Linked DNA regions of Homo sapiens. The protein of the gene in region 2 purifies or fractionates together with the protein of the main gene of each other region. This does not show direct contact. Each region holds a gene or a part of one and is shown on either strand. Other genes may lie near its edges.

Region 1 (7,276 bases), about 69 Mb from region 2:
GAGTCTAAGGCAGCAGTGACCTATGACTGGCACCACTGCACTCCAGCCTAGGTGACACAGCGAGACCCTGTCTCAAAAAACAAAAAACAAGAAGGAAGTGCAAGATGACCAGGTGCAGGCTGTGGGTGGGACCTGGCGGCCTATGCACACAAAAGTCTCATGCGGGCGGAGGGCCGCCAACCTGTCTTCATTTGTCCAGGATCTTCCCAGTTTGGAAACCCCTCAGTCCCAGGCACACTGGCATGTGATCAGTCACTCTACACGTGGGAAAACTCACAGTCAAAGAGGCTGGTCCCACGGCTGCCCTGCTGTGATGTCAGCCAAGTGGAGTTCGGGAGGGAGTGCCAGGAGCCAGGAAGGGACCGGGCCCCTGAGGACACCGGCGTACTCTCTGCCAAGGCTGGGCAGCACCGTGTTCAGGTTCAATCCCTGCTCTGCTCCTTCCTACCCGAGTGGCCCTGGGCTAGCATATAACTTGAGTCCGTTTCCTCGGCTGTAAAATGAGGACAGTAACCATTCCTATTTTGTACAGATTTTGTGAGGCATTAAATTCAATACTGCATGAAGGGTATTTTGAGCTTAGTAAATGCTCAAAACATGTTAGCTGCTATTTCTGGCTCTTCTTGTAACATCAGCAACCCTTCCTCATTGCACGGATGAGCAAACAGAGGCTGGGAGGACTGAAGCCACCTGTCCGAGCTCTCACCATGGGGAAGGGCGATATGGGTGATGTGGACTCAGAGTCTGAAGCTGGGGTCGTTGAGCCCCTCCCCTGACCTCCTCAGGCTCTCCCTTCATAAAGGGGCCACAGCCTCCCTGCAGGGCCCTGCTCACCGGAGCTGGCCGCCATGGGTGCCTGGGGCTGGAGCTCATCTAGGACGATGGAGGCCATCAGCTTGCGCATGCCCAGCATCCCCGAGGCCAGGTGCGTTGCGTACATGTCTCTCACCTTGGGGGACTCAGTCCCAGTGATGGCATCATGGTGCTGGACCTGCAGCAACCCCCAGAGGGGAGGAAGAACAGGATCAGGACCTGACTCTGCAAAGCACCTACAAGGCACCTACTAGGCGCTGGCTCTCATTCTGGCTTGCCAGGTGCCAGTGGAGAAGGGGGCAGTCCCCGCCATTTTACAGAAGGAGGAACTGAGGCCAAGAGAAGCTGAGGAGCTCGCCCAACTTTTCCTGCCCTTGTGGGAACTCATTGTCCCCCATCTCTGGACCCCCTGCTCTGAAGGACCCTGAAGTCACCTCATTTCTCCCACAACATAATGACATGTTCTGCCAGCAGCTCCTTTTGGGGAACTGTTACAGTGTCATGGCTGGTGTGACCCTTTTTTGGATAGGTGACTGAGGACAAGTTACAGGCTGTCTTGGGTCTGTTTTCCCATCAGTACAGTAGGGGATGGGTGGAGACGGAAACTCATGAACTGGCTATTCAGCAGCCACTGCACCAAGCAGGCTGTGCACACCAGCACATCCAATTGCCCCACCGTCCTCCTGGGCAAGCTCGTTGTTCTCATTGTACAGGAGGGAATTAGGTCTTGGGTGGGTGTGGGAATCATGTGCCTGACATCACACAGCTGAGCCGAGATATGGATGCAGGCAGGGCTGTCGGACACAAATGCCACTCCACCTTGTCCTTTATCCCTTTTGCTAAACTGCTACAAAGCTTAATGAGGCCACCAGCTGGATGGATCAGGCTGTGGTCTCAGCCTTGGCCTGGGTTCACCATGCACTGGCCTTGTAACCAAAGGGAACCTCAGTTTCCCCTCTGTAAAGTGGGGCCTCTAGTGCCCCAGGGCTGGAAGGATTGGCTAGGACAAGGGAGGGGAGGTGCGCAGCATGGGAGGTTCCAATCCTGCCACTGTGGCTAAATGTGGTGTTACCTCGGAGACGGCCCAGCGAAGCTGCTGGAGCTGCTGCAGGGCCCAGGTGGGGTCCAGATGCCCACGGGGGGCCGGCCACAGGTAGCGTGTGAACATGGACTCCCCGGCATACAACAAGGCGCTGGCTCGCCGGGCCAGCCCCTTCAGTGAGCTGCGGGACGTGTAGAAGCCCGTCCAGGCCTGGAATGGTTCTGGGAGACAAGGGAAGATGGTGAGCTTGAGACGGCATGACCCAGAAGTCTGCTAAGCTCCAGCCCTGGAAGAGCTGAGAAGCTGGGGCTGCAGAGGCAGCCTCTGCCAGGGTCACCCAAGGAGGCAGGCCGGGCAGGCAGCGAGCCCAGGGCTTACGGCTCCCAACTCAGGCCTCCTCCCATAGCCAGACTAGGAACTGCCCAGAAAACCCTGGATGGGCCTTGGGCAGGGTGGGAGAGACAGGCTGCACTGGGGCAGGTGGGGTGGGGTGCTGAAGGATCCTGATCGGAGGCAAGCCCAGGGTGCCTAGGAAACACAGAACAGCTGTGTGAGCAAAGGGCCTGGGAGACCCAGAGGGGAAGAGGAGGAGCCAGGTGGGCAGGACCCCACTGAGAAGGGCCTAGACTGCACAGAGGCCTTCATGTGTGACGTGGGCATGGGGAGGCCAGGACAGGCATGCGTTTCAGCAGGGATTCTCTGGGCGTCCAGGGAGGATGGATGGTAGGAGGCAGCAAGGGCTCAGAGACCCCAGGGAGCCAGTGTCCTGATGCAAGACAGAGAGGATGAGGATGCCCAGGGCCCATGCAGGAGGCAGGAGGGCTGAACCCTCCCAGGGAGTGGCTGTCTGTCTCAGAAGGGAGCTTCCTATTGCTTTTGCTTTCCTGCTCCTCGGCGTCTGGGATGTGCCCAGATTTGCCTTGATTCCCTGTTCTTCCCCCACTGGTCCTGAACCAGACTGGGAGGGGTGGTCACATGGCCCAGGGGACAGGCCACACCCTGTGGGTCAGATGGGGTCCTCCACAGCTTTGCAGCCATGTTGAGAGTGGGTGGTGAGGCCCGATTCCATTCAGTCTGGCAGGGGCTCCACATCCTCAGTGGTCATCACGATACCATGCCCGCCTGGATACCACGCCCACCTGGACGCCACGCCCACCCACACCCGCCTGGATACCACGCCCACCTGGATACCACGCCCACCTGGACACCACGCCCACCTGGACAGAGCCACACCCAACTTGACTCGGGTATATCCCTACCTGCTAGATGTGGCCACACCCACAGTCACTACCCCACCCACCTCACCATTAGCCATGCCCACATTAACATATCTCCTCCTGCCTTGACTATAACCACACCCACATCCACGGACATCCCCCAACCCGTGTGTGCAGCCCCACCTGCCTCCAATGTGGTGTCAACAGCAGGAGCCGGGGACTATGCAGCCCCACTGGTCACCATGCAGACCCAGAGGCTGGGGCCCAGAGAGGCAGGACTAAGCCAGGTCATGGGTGAGTCAAGGCAGTGCCCAGGCCAGAATGAGCCCTGCAGCTGGAGTTCATCTGTGGCATCTCTTTGGAAGGGAAATGTTATGGTTTGAATGCCCCTCCAAAACCCATGTTAAAATTTAATTGCCATTGTGACTGTATTAAGAGGTGGGATGCTTAAGAGGAGATTAGGCCATGAAGGCTCTGCCCTCGTGAACAGATTAATGTCATTGTCATGGGACTGGGATTGTTAGAAAAGCAAGTTCAACCCCCTTGTCCGGCTGTTCTTTTGCACTCAGCCTTCAGCCATGGGTGATGCAGAAAGAAGGCCCTCTCTAGACACCAGCCCTCCACCTTGGACTTCCCGGCCTCTACATCTGTGAGCCAAAGAAACTTCGTTTCCTAATCAATGACCCATTCTGTGGTATACTGTTACAGCAGCACCCAGAGGTCTAGGACATCTGCTGAGCCCTGCCTCTGTGCTGGGCAGGAGGCTGAGAGCACTTCTTCTCATTGAATTTTCACAGCAACCCTATCTATGCACGAGGCACCACAAATGTCCCCCTTTGGAGACAGGGTGGTTTCATGACTTGCACACAGGCAGCGAGTAGAGGCTTACTCACAGCCAGCCCTCTTAGCTCTCAGGCTGTGCTGCTGGTGGCCAACCCAGTTCTGGCCTGAGGACACAGGCATGATGCACAGGAGGTGCCCAGTAATGACTGTGCAGTGAAAGGAAGCCCGAGTCAGCCTCAGCATCAGGAAAGGGCTCGTAGAAGAGGTTTATGTGGAACTCATGCAGGAAGAGAAGGTGATGGAGGCCGCTCCCAGCAGGAGGCACCACCTGTGCAAAGGCCAGAGGCAGGAAACTGCATGTGGTGGGCAATGGTGAGAGGCTGAACCCTGTGGGAATCAGGTGGTGCATGTGGTGGCCAGGACGTCCAGGTGGAGTGAGCAGAGAGGGTCAGTCTCTGCCCCTGCGCCCCACACAGAACCTGCCTGGAACCCCTCCAGGGCTTGGAGAGCAGTGCCGAGCAGCCACTGAAGTGGGCAGAGGGTACGTGGACTATACCCTCCCTGCCACCAAACTACCACCCCAGCCCCTGGAAGCCTGTACCTGTGGAATAGGGCAGGAAGTCGTGGTGGTCGCGGACACGCCAGGTGACATTGAGAGCGTGCAGGGCACGGAAGTAGTCGCCCAGCGTGGCATACTGCACCGAGACACCGAGCTCGGCAGCATGGCTGTTGATGTGGTCCAGCAGCGGGTCCATGTTGGCAAACTGCACCGAGGCATTGAAGAACTGCTTGTCACATCCCTGCAGGGACATGGGAGCAACATCCTGTGCCGTGGGAGCAGGGCGCTCGCCCAGTGGGGGTGGGCCGATCGCTGCCCTCCACCAGCTGCCCTCCCAGTCTCCAAGGCGGCCAACAGGGGCCCCAAACCAGCTCCCATAGCAGTGGCTTGATCTCGGCTCATGCAACCTCCGCCTCCCGGGTTCAAGTGATTCTTCTGCCTCAGCCTCCCTGAGGCTGCAGGCGCCACCACACCTGGCTAATTTTTATATTTTTAGTAGAGACAGGGTTTTACCATGTTGGCCAGGCTGGTCCCGAACTCCTGACCTCAGGTGATCTGCCTGCCTTGGCCTCCCAAAGTGCTGGGATTATAGGTGTGAGCCACAGCGCCCGGCCCTGGGCATCTCTTAAGGCCCATCAGTGTTACTACTTATCCAAATCATTATAATTAATGATTATTAATTATTATAATTAATATAATGATTAATAACAGCAATAATAACCATGACTGAGTTACTGATCTTAAGCTTGCCTTCACAAGGGCAGTCACGGATGAAGAAGGCAGGCTCTGGGGCCCGCCTGACTGGGTCTGAACACAAATTCCACCCCTTCCTAGCCACCCTAAGGAACTCTGTGGCCTCAGGAAAATTCCTTAACCTCTCTGGGCCTTGGTTTCCTCAACTGTGAAATGGATACCAGCCTGCTTCCTAGGCCCAGTGGTGCAAATTAGATGGCTGAGACAAATATATCCCACGGGGCAGTGCCCAGCACACAGCAGGTGCTCACTAAAGGTTAGCTGTGACGATGGCCACGACGTGCCGGGCACTGGCTTCCCGGGAACGCTTCACCTCTCACCAAGCCTATGAAGCCTGCTGCCACCATCCCCATTTTACAGCGGAGGCAACTGAAGCTCAATGGACTCTAAGGCACGCAGTGCCCGAGCCGGGAGCCAGCCCGGCCCAGGCAGGGAAGAGAGCTGAGTGGGAGCTGGAGAGGCCAGCGTGGGTGAGGGTGCTTTTCCAGGTGGGGGAGGGGCTGGTAGAGTGGGAGAGGCCCAGGGGTCTGCAGGGAAGGAGGATGGAGCCACTGGGCTGAGCATGGCTGCCTAGCTGGGTCTGGATAGGGTGGCCCTGGGTGCAGGGACCAGGGCTTGCATAGTGCTCCTTGGGCTGTGTTGAGGGCACAGCACCTGGGACTCTGCCTTACCCAGGGCCAGAGGACGTGCGGTGTCCGGAACCAGGCGGCCCTCTGCTTCACGTTGGCCACCAGGGCCTCGGCATAGAGGTTGATGTTGGCTGGGGTGACAGGCTCACTCATGTTGGGGTACACCCCATCTTGGGGAGGCTTGGGGAAGACAGCCACGCCATTCCAGTAAAATCCTGACCTGTGCGAGGGCAGAAGGTTAGGGCAGAAGACACGAACTCTGTGGACAGCCAGGGCTCACACCCAAGTGCCATGTTCTCCCAGCCTTGGGACCTTGGCACATCATTTCACCCTGAGACTGAATTCTCCCACTCCATGACCGACGGTGGGTCACAGATTTGTTTGCTCATTCACGCAGGCCAACTTCTCGCCCATCAGACCCCGGGTCTCAGGACCCCAAAGAGGCCGGGGGCTTGGTGAGGCAAGTGAGGCCCTGGCCTAGGGCACAAAATTTATGGGGGTGCCTCAATTCTTAGTAGTTGAGATAAATGATATTTTAATGCAGTACTTTAAAAAATGAAAATTAATGCAAAAAACCCATGAGGAACAAAATGTCAGAGTTTTAAATAAAGACAGGCTCAGTATTTAACATCTTTCTCTGTTTGCCTTAGGCTGGGGGTGTGGAGAACCCCCAGTTAAGTGCCTTCCTTGCTCACACTGTGCAGCCTCGGGGTAGCAGCCATGGAACCCTTGTCTGGAGCTCTCCAACCTGGGCAGCCCCTTCCAGCATTCCCACCTCTGTTTCTTTTACAGACAGGGTCTTGCTCTGTTGATCAGGCTGGAGTGCAGTGATATGATCACGGCTCACTGCAGCCTCGAACTCCCGGGCTCAAGCCATCGCCTCAGCCTCCCCAGGAGCTGGGACTACCACCATGCTCGACTTGTTTTTGAATTTTATGTAGAGACGAGGTCTTGCTCTGTGGCCCAGGCTGGTCTCGAATTCCTGGGCTCAAGCAATCCTCCCACCTCAGCCTCCCAAAGCATTGGGATCACAGTCATCAGCCACCAGCACTGCCACCTCTAGCCTCACCAAGCTCCCTGGTAGAATGTGGAGCAGGTTGTTGTGAGGATTAAATGAAAGTCATTTATGGAAAGGAGCTAGAAACAGTGCTGGGCACAAAGGAGGGCTGACAAATGGCAGTGACCGCTAATTAATCCCGGCCAGTGTTCTTCACCCCCTCTGCCTTGCCTGTTGTCTTTCCTCTTCCAAGAGAGGCTAAGCACCTGGCCAGGGCAGAGTGCGGATTTGAACCCAGGGCCGTCTGACTGCACAGAGACCAAGGCTGACTGCTGCCACCACGTGGAGGCTGCAGAGCTGGTGGCCTGAATCCAACGCTGGCTCCACCACGTCTGCCAGCTGTGGGACCTGGGGCGGGCTGCTGTGCCTCAGTTTTTCCTTCTGTAAGATGGGGCACTCACAGCATCTCCGTCAGTGGGCTGC
Region 2 (8,230 bases):
ATGTTACTGTACTGAATACTGTAGGCAGTTGTAACACAATGATAAGTGTTTGTGTATCCAAACATAGAAAAGGAAGAGTAAAAATACCATATAAACGATTAAAAAAAATACACCTGTAGGGTACTTACCACAAATGGAGCTTGCAGGATGGGAAGTTGCTCTGGGTGGGGCAGTGAGTGAATGAGTGGTGTGTGAACGTGAAGGACATTACACTCCTAAAGACTTTATAAACACTGCACACTTAGGCTATACTAAATTTATGGAAATATTTTCTTCAATAATAAATTAACCTTATCTTACTATAACTATTTTACTTATAAATCTTTAAATTAAAAACATTAAATTTGGCCAGGTGCGGTGATTCACGTCTGTAATCTCAACACTTTGGGAGGCCGAGGCAGGTGGATCATCTGAGGTCAGGAGTTCGAGACCATTCTGACTAACATGGTGTAACCCCGTCTCTACTAAAAATACAAAAATTAGCTGGGCATGGTGTTGCATGCCTATAATCTCAGCTACTCCGGAGGCTGAGGCAGGAGAATTGCTTGAACCCAGGAGGTGGAAGTTGCAGTGTTGACCCGAGATTGCACCATTGCACTCCAGCCTGGGCAAAAGAGTGAAACTCTGTCTGAAAAAATAAATAAATTTTATTTATTTAATTAATTTAATTTTTTTTTTTTTTTTTTTTTTTTGAGACGGAGTCTTACTCTGTCACCCAGGCTGGAATGCAGTGGCCTGATCTCGGCTCACTGCAAGCTCCGCCTCCCGGATTCATGCCTTTCTTCTGCCTCAGCCTCCTCGGTAGCCGGGACTACAGGCGCCCACCACCACGCCTGGCTAATTTTTTTGTATTCTTAATAGAGATGGGTTTTCACCATGTTAGCCAGGATGGTCTCGATCTCCTGGCCTCGTGATCCGCCTGCCTCGGCCTCCCAAAGTGCTGGGATTACAGGCGTGAGCCACCGCGCCCGGCCAAAATTAAAAATTTTTAACCTTTTGACCTTTTGTAATAACACTTACCTTAAAATACAAACACATTGTACAGTAGTATAAACATACTTTCTTTGTATTCTTATTCTATAAGTTTTATTCTATTTCTAAAATTTTAATTTTTTTTTTACTTTTTAAACTTTTTTATTAAAAACTAAGACACAAACATATACATTAGCCTAGACCTACACGGGGTCAGGATCATCACTGTCACTGTCTTCCACCTCCACATCTTGTTCCACTGGAAGATCTTCAGGGGCAATAACATGCATAGAGCTGCCATCTGCTATGATAACCATGCCTTCTTCTGGAATACTTCCTGAAGGACCTGCCTGAAGCTATTTTAGAACAGACTTATTTTTTGTAAATAGAAGGAGTACAGCCTTAAGTAACAATGAAAACTATAGTATAGTAAATGCATAAACCAGTAATGTAGTCATTTATCATTACCAAGTATGTACTATGCATAACTTTAAGTGCTATACTTTTTTCATGTCTAGCAGTGCAGCAGGTTTGTTTATACCAGGATCATCAGCACAAACATGTGAGTAATGTATTGTGCTATGACTTTATGGCATCTACAAAGTCACTAGGCAATAGGAATTTTTCAGTTCCATTATAATCTTATGGAACCACTGTCATATATGCAATCTGTCATTGACAAGAAGTCATTATACAGCATATGACTGTATATTTAATTAGAAGAAAAAACATAAATTTTGGAATCAGAAAAATCTCAGTTCTGACTCTCAATCTTACCACTTAATGTCTTTCAGTCTTGAGGAAAGAAATGTTAACTCCTCTCAATACCTCATAATTTCTCATTGTGAGAAAAAGACCTAACACAAACTGGCCTATGTACATGGGCTCTTCCCCTTAACACACTGGATTAACAACTGTGACTCAAAGCCATTTATAGCCTTCTTGACATTGGGAAACATACACATTAGAGTCTCATTGATCAGTCTGCAACTAAATGATTTGTGGATAATTAAAGTATATGACTAAAAAGATATTTTTACCAAAACTACTGCATTTGAAATAAGCTTTCAGAAATATTTTCATATTTTTAAGGTATGAGGATTTTTGGCAAATGAATCTGATAACTTCACAACAGTTTCATTGATTTTACATGTTGGGAAACACTTGGCTCCACTGTATATATAACATACAAAGACATAAGATATGCCGAGACTTAGTTATTCTATACACTAATAACAAAGAAATGTTGGAATTTTCTGCTGGATAAGAATTTGATAAAATTTTTTTAAATTGTGTTCCTTGGCCAGGCGCGGTGGCACACACCTGTAATCCCAGCATTTTGGGAGGTCGAGGTGGGCAGATCACCTGAGGTCAGGCATTCGAGACCAGCCTAGCCAAAATGGTGAAATCCCGTCTCTACCAAAAATACAAAAAAATTAGCTGGGTGTGGTGGCACACCCTCATGCCTCAGCCTCCTGAGTAGCCCTGTAATCCCAGCTACTCGGGAGGCTGAAGCAAGAGAATTGCTTGAGCCCAGGAAGCAGAGGTTGCCGTGAGCCAAATGGTGCCACTGCACTCCAGCCTGGGCAACAGAATGACACTCCATCTCAAAAGAAAAAAAAATGTATTCCTTTTAAAATTTTGTTCCTTTATTTTATAAACTTCAGAACAACAGATTTGAATGAAAAAATAAGTTATTTTGCTTTTGTTATTTATTTTCATCAACATTTAAGATGAAAGCTCATTAGCACTCCAAAACAAAAAAGAAAGAGAATCAGAAGAAGTAATAGAAATGTCCATCAGTTAAAAGTTTGGTTAAATAAATTACAGTAAATCTATAAAATGAAACACCAGGCAGTGGCTGAAGTGATTATGTGAATCTAATTCTATTGGCATTGTGGTGTATTTACAATGCAGGGGACAAAGTAGCATATGTGATACTGACCCGTTGATGTAAAATTACAGACTGTGTTTGTCTGCTTCGTTCTCCCATAGCCTTCAGTCCTTCCCCTCTCTTAGCACTCAAAACGCTTTATTGTTATTCCTGAGTTAATTTTTAATGTCTCCTAAACTATAAGTTCCATGAGAGCAGGAATCTTATCTTTAGCCCCAGCACCTTGACCAGTGTCTGACACTGAATAAATAAAAGTCAATACAGAATTATTGAATGAATGGGTAGTCTAAGGAACTCAATTTGTCCTGGATGTTTCCTGATTCCTTTTCAAACTGCTGACAAATCATCCATCTGATTATCTGTTCTGGAAGTTTGCCTAGGACTAACATCAAGCCTGAGGAACTTTCCATTTTCTATCTGTGAGTGTTTGCATCCTTATTCATTTAGACTTTCAGTTTGCACAGCCTCTCTTGTTAGATTGTCAGTCCTTCAAAGACAGGGACCATGTTTAGTTTGTTCTTTTTTTTTTTTTTTTTTTTTTTCCATGATACCCAGGAAAATGTTCTGCTTAAAGTGGAGGTCTTTCCAGTGATTAACTGATTTGGCAAGTACAGCCTCCTAAGAGAATAAATTATCAGTTGGGATTATTATAATTTAATGACAATCACAAACACTCCCTTTCACAGGCCAGGCACTGTGGTTGGAGCTGTATGTCAATTATCTCCTTGATATGAAACCAACTAAGTGGCCATCGACCAACGAGTGGATAAAGAAAATGTGGTAGAAATACACCATGGAATACTACTCAGCCATAAAAAAATGAAATAATGTCTTTTGCAGCAACTTGGATGGAGCTGGAGGCCATTATTCCAAGTTAAGTAACTCAGGAATGGAAAACCAAATATCGTATGTTCTCACTTATACGTGGGAGCTGAGCTATGAGGACACAAAGACATACAGAATGATATAATGGACTTTAGAGGCTAGGGGTGGGGGAGGTTGGGAAGGAGGTGAGGGATAAAAGACTACATATTGGGTGCAGTGTACACTGCTCGGGTGACGAGTGCACTAAAATCTCAGAGTTCGCCACCATAGAGTCCATCCATGTAACCCAAAACCACTCGTACCCCAAAAGATTGAAATTTAAAAAAAATTTTTTTTAAAAGCATCTCCTTAATTCACAAATTCCTCTGAGGGTAGTACCACAAGTCCCATTTTACAGGTGAGGCCCCTGAGGCTTCAGCAAGTCTCAGGGACTCACCACAGTCACTCAGCTAGTAAGAAAAGGAACAAAGACTGGAATTTTACCTGACTCCAAGGTCCATGTTCTTAATCACCTGTGACAATCCCCTCTCATATATCCAGCAGCTGATGAAGTCTTTCTCTCAGGAAACCAACTGGACATAGACATGTCATGTCCATTTTATATGCAATATGGTGAATCAGGAGGAGCCGTGAAAGGACGACTCACTAAGTTACTCTCCCAATGTTTATGTTTGTTTAGACAGTGACCATCATGACCACTAGGGAAGATCACTTTCTGATTCTGCTGCCCTCACCTCCTGGACAAAAGCAGAGCAGAGAAGCAGCATAAACCCTGGTTGGGGGCCTAAGAATGATCCCCAACTCTCCACTGCAAACCACCGGGGTCAGGAAGCCTCCGGGTAATGCCCTCTCCCTCTTGTTTCGCTTTTTAAGTAGGTAAGCTGCACAGAGAGAAGCACTGTTGCATATTTCTGGACAGCTTATTTCTCTTGCAGAGGAAGACTGATATACACAACTAAAAGGCACTAACATGGGAGAAGATTTGAGAGATTAGAAGGATGGTGAAGGTGCGGTTGTCCAAAATCCCCCTCTGGGGGGAGATGATTGATATCTGGCTGTCATTCCAAGAAGCTTCTGGTTGACAAATACTGTCTGGTATTTCCTTGCTGATTTCTTACCCTCACACCGCAAGCCCTGATCTCTGTGGTCCACTGTGCAAATGCAAATTACCTGAATCAGGCTGCTGGTGACTCACCAGCTCCCCTTTAAAGCAACATCAGGTTCAACGCAGTGACTGCTCAGTAGAAGCCATGGCTCGCAGACACTGCTTCTCCTACTGGTTACTGGTATGCTGGTTGGTGGTAACTGTGGCAGAAGGTAAGGGTTTTGCTTTTATTCTACTGTGGGTCCACTAATTAATAAGTTGTAGGAAAAGACAAAACTGGCTCCATGATTATACGTTCCCATAAATTGGAAATATTTACCTCAGCTTCCATCAGCCTGTGTGGTTAAAGAGAAGGAAGTTGGATTTTGTCACCTGAAGACCTTGGTCCTCGTCTCAGCAATAGCTCTGTGACTTTAGACACACTTAAAATCTCTGAGTATCAGATTCCTCATATGTGAAGTGACAACATTAACAATATCCATCGTTATGGGGTTTGCAAGGACCAAATGAGCTATCATCTGTGAAAAACTCTTCAAGCTAAAAACACTGTACAAATACTAGTTATTATGGTTACAAAGCTAACAATTCCACTTTGAATTACAGCACTGTCCACTTTCTATCTCCAGCAGCATATTAATTTGCACATGGTGGGTATTTAGTCTTTGTTCATTGCTTTAATTAATCACATCTATTGAGCTGCATTTTGGTGCCACAGAGGTGGGCACAGGTTTCTTTCTTTAGGATTTTATTAGATTCCATTTCTCAACTGTTCCTATTCTCTTTCTTTGTTCCCACTACAAAATGTGTCCTGAGCCTTACAATTGGTTTGCAAACCCCTAGGAAAAGGAAAGAAAAGGCTGGGGAAGGGATGAAAAGAGGGAAATACAAGGGGAGGAAATCTTGGGGAGCCTAGATCTAACCTTTTCTTCAGTTTATTTTAATTCCAAAACTAGATGCTGTTTACGGAAGATGGACCTAGGAGTCAAACAGAGCACTTCACCCCTTTCACATGTCTTGGGTAGGGGGCTTTGCAGGGGCTCAGCCAAACCCTGCTCATCCCCAGACAGATTCCCCGTTCCCATCCCTCAGAGCTCACAATAGACAGGAGGAGGGGAGAGACATAAGAGCTGGTTGTGGAACACTCAGAAACCCCCTGATCCAACCTCTGCACACACTCTGGCAATCAGGGGACAGGGCATAGATTATGAACAAAACCTGCCCCCATATCCCAAGGCAAGGCCCCCAAGCCTCACCTACTAAAAGTGACATCTAAAAGAAGCATCATAAAACAAAACTAGCCACCTGCCACTTTCTCTGCAAAAAGTGAACCGCTCTTCAGGAGGCTTTGTAAACACATAGCTAAACAAGTTATAATGAGATTAGAGATTTATTTTATTCACATCTTAAAAACACCCACTGAGGCTGGGTACAGTGGCTCACACCTGTAATCCCAGCATTTTGGGAGGCCGAGGTGGGCAGATCACCTGAGGTCGGGAGTTCAAAACCAGCCTGACCAACATGGAGAAACCCCATCTCTACAAAAAATACAAAATTAGCCAGGTGTGGTGGTGCATGCCTGTAATCCCAGCTACTCGGGAGGCTGAGGCAGGAGAATCGCTTGAACCCAGGAGGTGGAGGTTGCCATGAGCCAAGATCGTGCCATTGCACTCCAGCCTGGGGAACAAGAGTGAAACTCTGTCTCAAAAAACAAAACACCCATTGAAACACCAGATTTGATTTCCGAATTTGGCTCACTTTTCCCTACAATCCCTCGAAGTCCTTCAAATGTAGCTTCATTCTATCCCAGCAGCCCCTGCTTCCAGTTCATCGCTCGTTCACACACACCCTGGGTCTGCCCGACAAGGTCATGTGTGGATCTCCATACTCATCCTCTTCTCACTGATGCACGGCAGCAACCACAGCTGCTCCCTCCACTTGCTTTCACCTCTGTTTGTTGCAGTTCCGCTTTAAGGCACAACATTTAAATGCCACTATGATTTTGCCTTGACAAAGTCTTTGTTAAGACATAATAATTTTAAAATTGCAGTTTCTCTTTCTGACACCTTTGAATTCTTACAGCTATTTGTGCATCACCTACGGCACGTATGGCATCTGCTCTCTGCTGCAGATCCCTGGCTTCATAGCATCTGCCCACTCCTTGAGCTCAGGCTCTTAATCTTAATCATCTCTGCGTTTGCCAGAGCCCCTAATGTAGTAACCTGTACCTGTTGAAACAACTTGACTCACAGCATAGAATTGAAAGGGGCCTGTCTGATACTTTCTGGGCTCTGATATTTTATCTGTGAAATTAGAGATTTGACCAAGATAGTCATTCTTTGAGTCTACAAAATAAATTGAGTTTTGCAGTTATTGTGAGTAAATCAATCATAGAACTTATTCTTTCTGGCTCAAGTCTGAAAGCACATGAGAATTAGTTTCTAAGACTCCATGCACCATGTAAGGGAAGAACTGCACACTTAAACTTTAAGTAGAAAGCTGACTTCTCTTAAAATCAGTATAGTTCACTGCAAGCCAGCTTTGTCTGCCCAAATAACCACAGAGTATAGGTAATTATAAAAAAAAAAAAAGGTCTTTCATCATTACCTTTTTTTAAAAAAGTACTTGTTTTTAAAGTAGTTGTTGGTATGCTGTGAATTTCATGTCTAGACTATAATAAACCACCTTAAAACTGATATTCAAATTCCAAGCAATATTTTGCCTTGTTTTTTCTATTATACTCTAATTTTTTTGTTTGTTTGTTTGTATGTTTGTTTGAGACAGGGTCTCCCTCTGTCGCCCAGGCTGGAGTGTGCAGTGGCACTATCTCAGCTCACTGCAACCTCCGCCTCCTGGGTTCAGATGATTCTCCTGCCTCAGCCTCCAGAGTAGCTGGGATTACAAGTGTCTGCCACCATGCCCGGCTAATTTTTGTGTTTTTAGTAGAGACGAGGTTTCACCATGTTGGCCAGGCTGGTCTTGAACTCCTGAGCTTAAGTAATCTGCCTGGCTCAGCCTCCCAAAGTGCTGGGATTATAAGTGTAAGCCACCACGCCCAGCCAATTTTTAATATAATTTATTATTGCAGATTTTCTGCGACTGAAATTAAATACTCACTGAACTCCACAAAATATACAGAGAGGAACATTCAAGGTCGGCCTGACCATTTAACTCATCAAGTATTTACTGAGCACCACTATAAGCCAGGGACTATTCTAGGTGCTGGAGACACCGGCAGTGACCAAGAGTCAACAGTCCCTGTCATTGGCGAGGTCCTATTCTAGTAACGTGTGTCCCCAGTAGCCCTATCTTTAATGCACAAATTTTATGGGCCTAAGAAAATGGTGCTCAGGCTAACAGAATGTTTCCATAACATTCAAGATTAATAACCGTAGCTAACACTTATTAAGTGTGAACTGTATGTCCAGCAATGTTCT

The links.
Region 1: the proteins of ODAPH (region 2) and MAN2B2 purify together in Homo sapiens (affinity purification with mass spectrometry; 2 studies listed by BioGRID and IntAct, with this or other methods). This does not show direct contact.

Annotation. Positions count from the first base shown.
Region 1 is NC_000004.12:6,591,913-6,599,188, reverse strand, and holds part of MAN2B2 (epididymis-specific alpha-mannosidase isoform 1 precursor), read right to left. Parts: intron 6,017-7,276; coding exon 5,839-6,016; intron 4,656-5,838; coding exon 4,457-4,655; intron 2,077-4,456; coding exon 1,886-2,076; intron 992-1,885; coding exon 835-991; intron 1-834.
Region 2 is NC_000004.12:75,551,142-75,559,371, forward strand, and holds the start of ODAPH (odontogenesis associated phosphoprotein isoform 2 precursor), read left to right. Parts: upstream 1-4,924; 5' UTR 4,925-4,941; coding exon 4,942-5,008; intron 5,009-5,399; coding exon of another isoform or gene 5,400-5,443; intron 5,444-8,230. UniProt on the Homo sapiens protein: May promote nucleation of hydroxyapatite.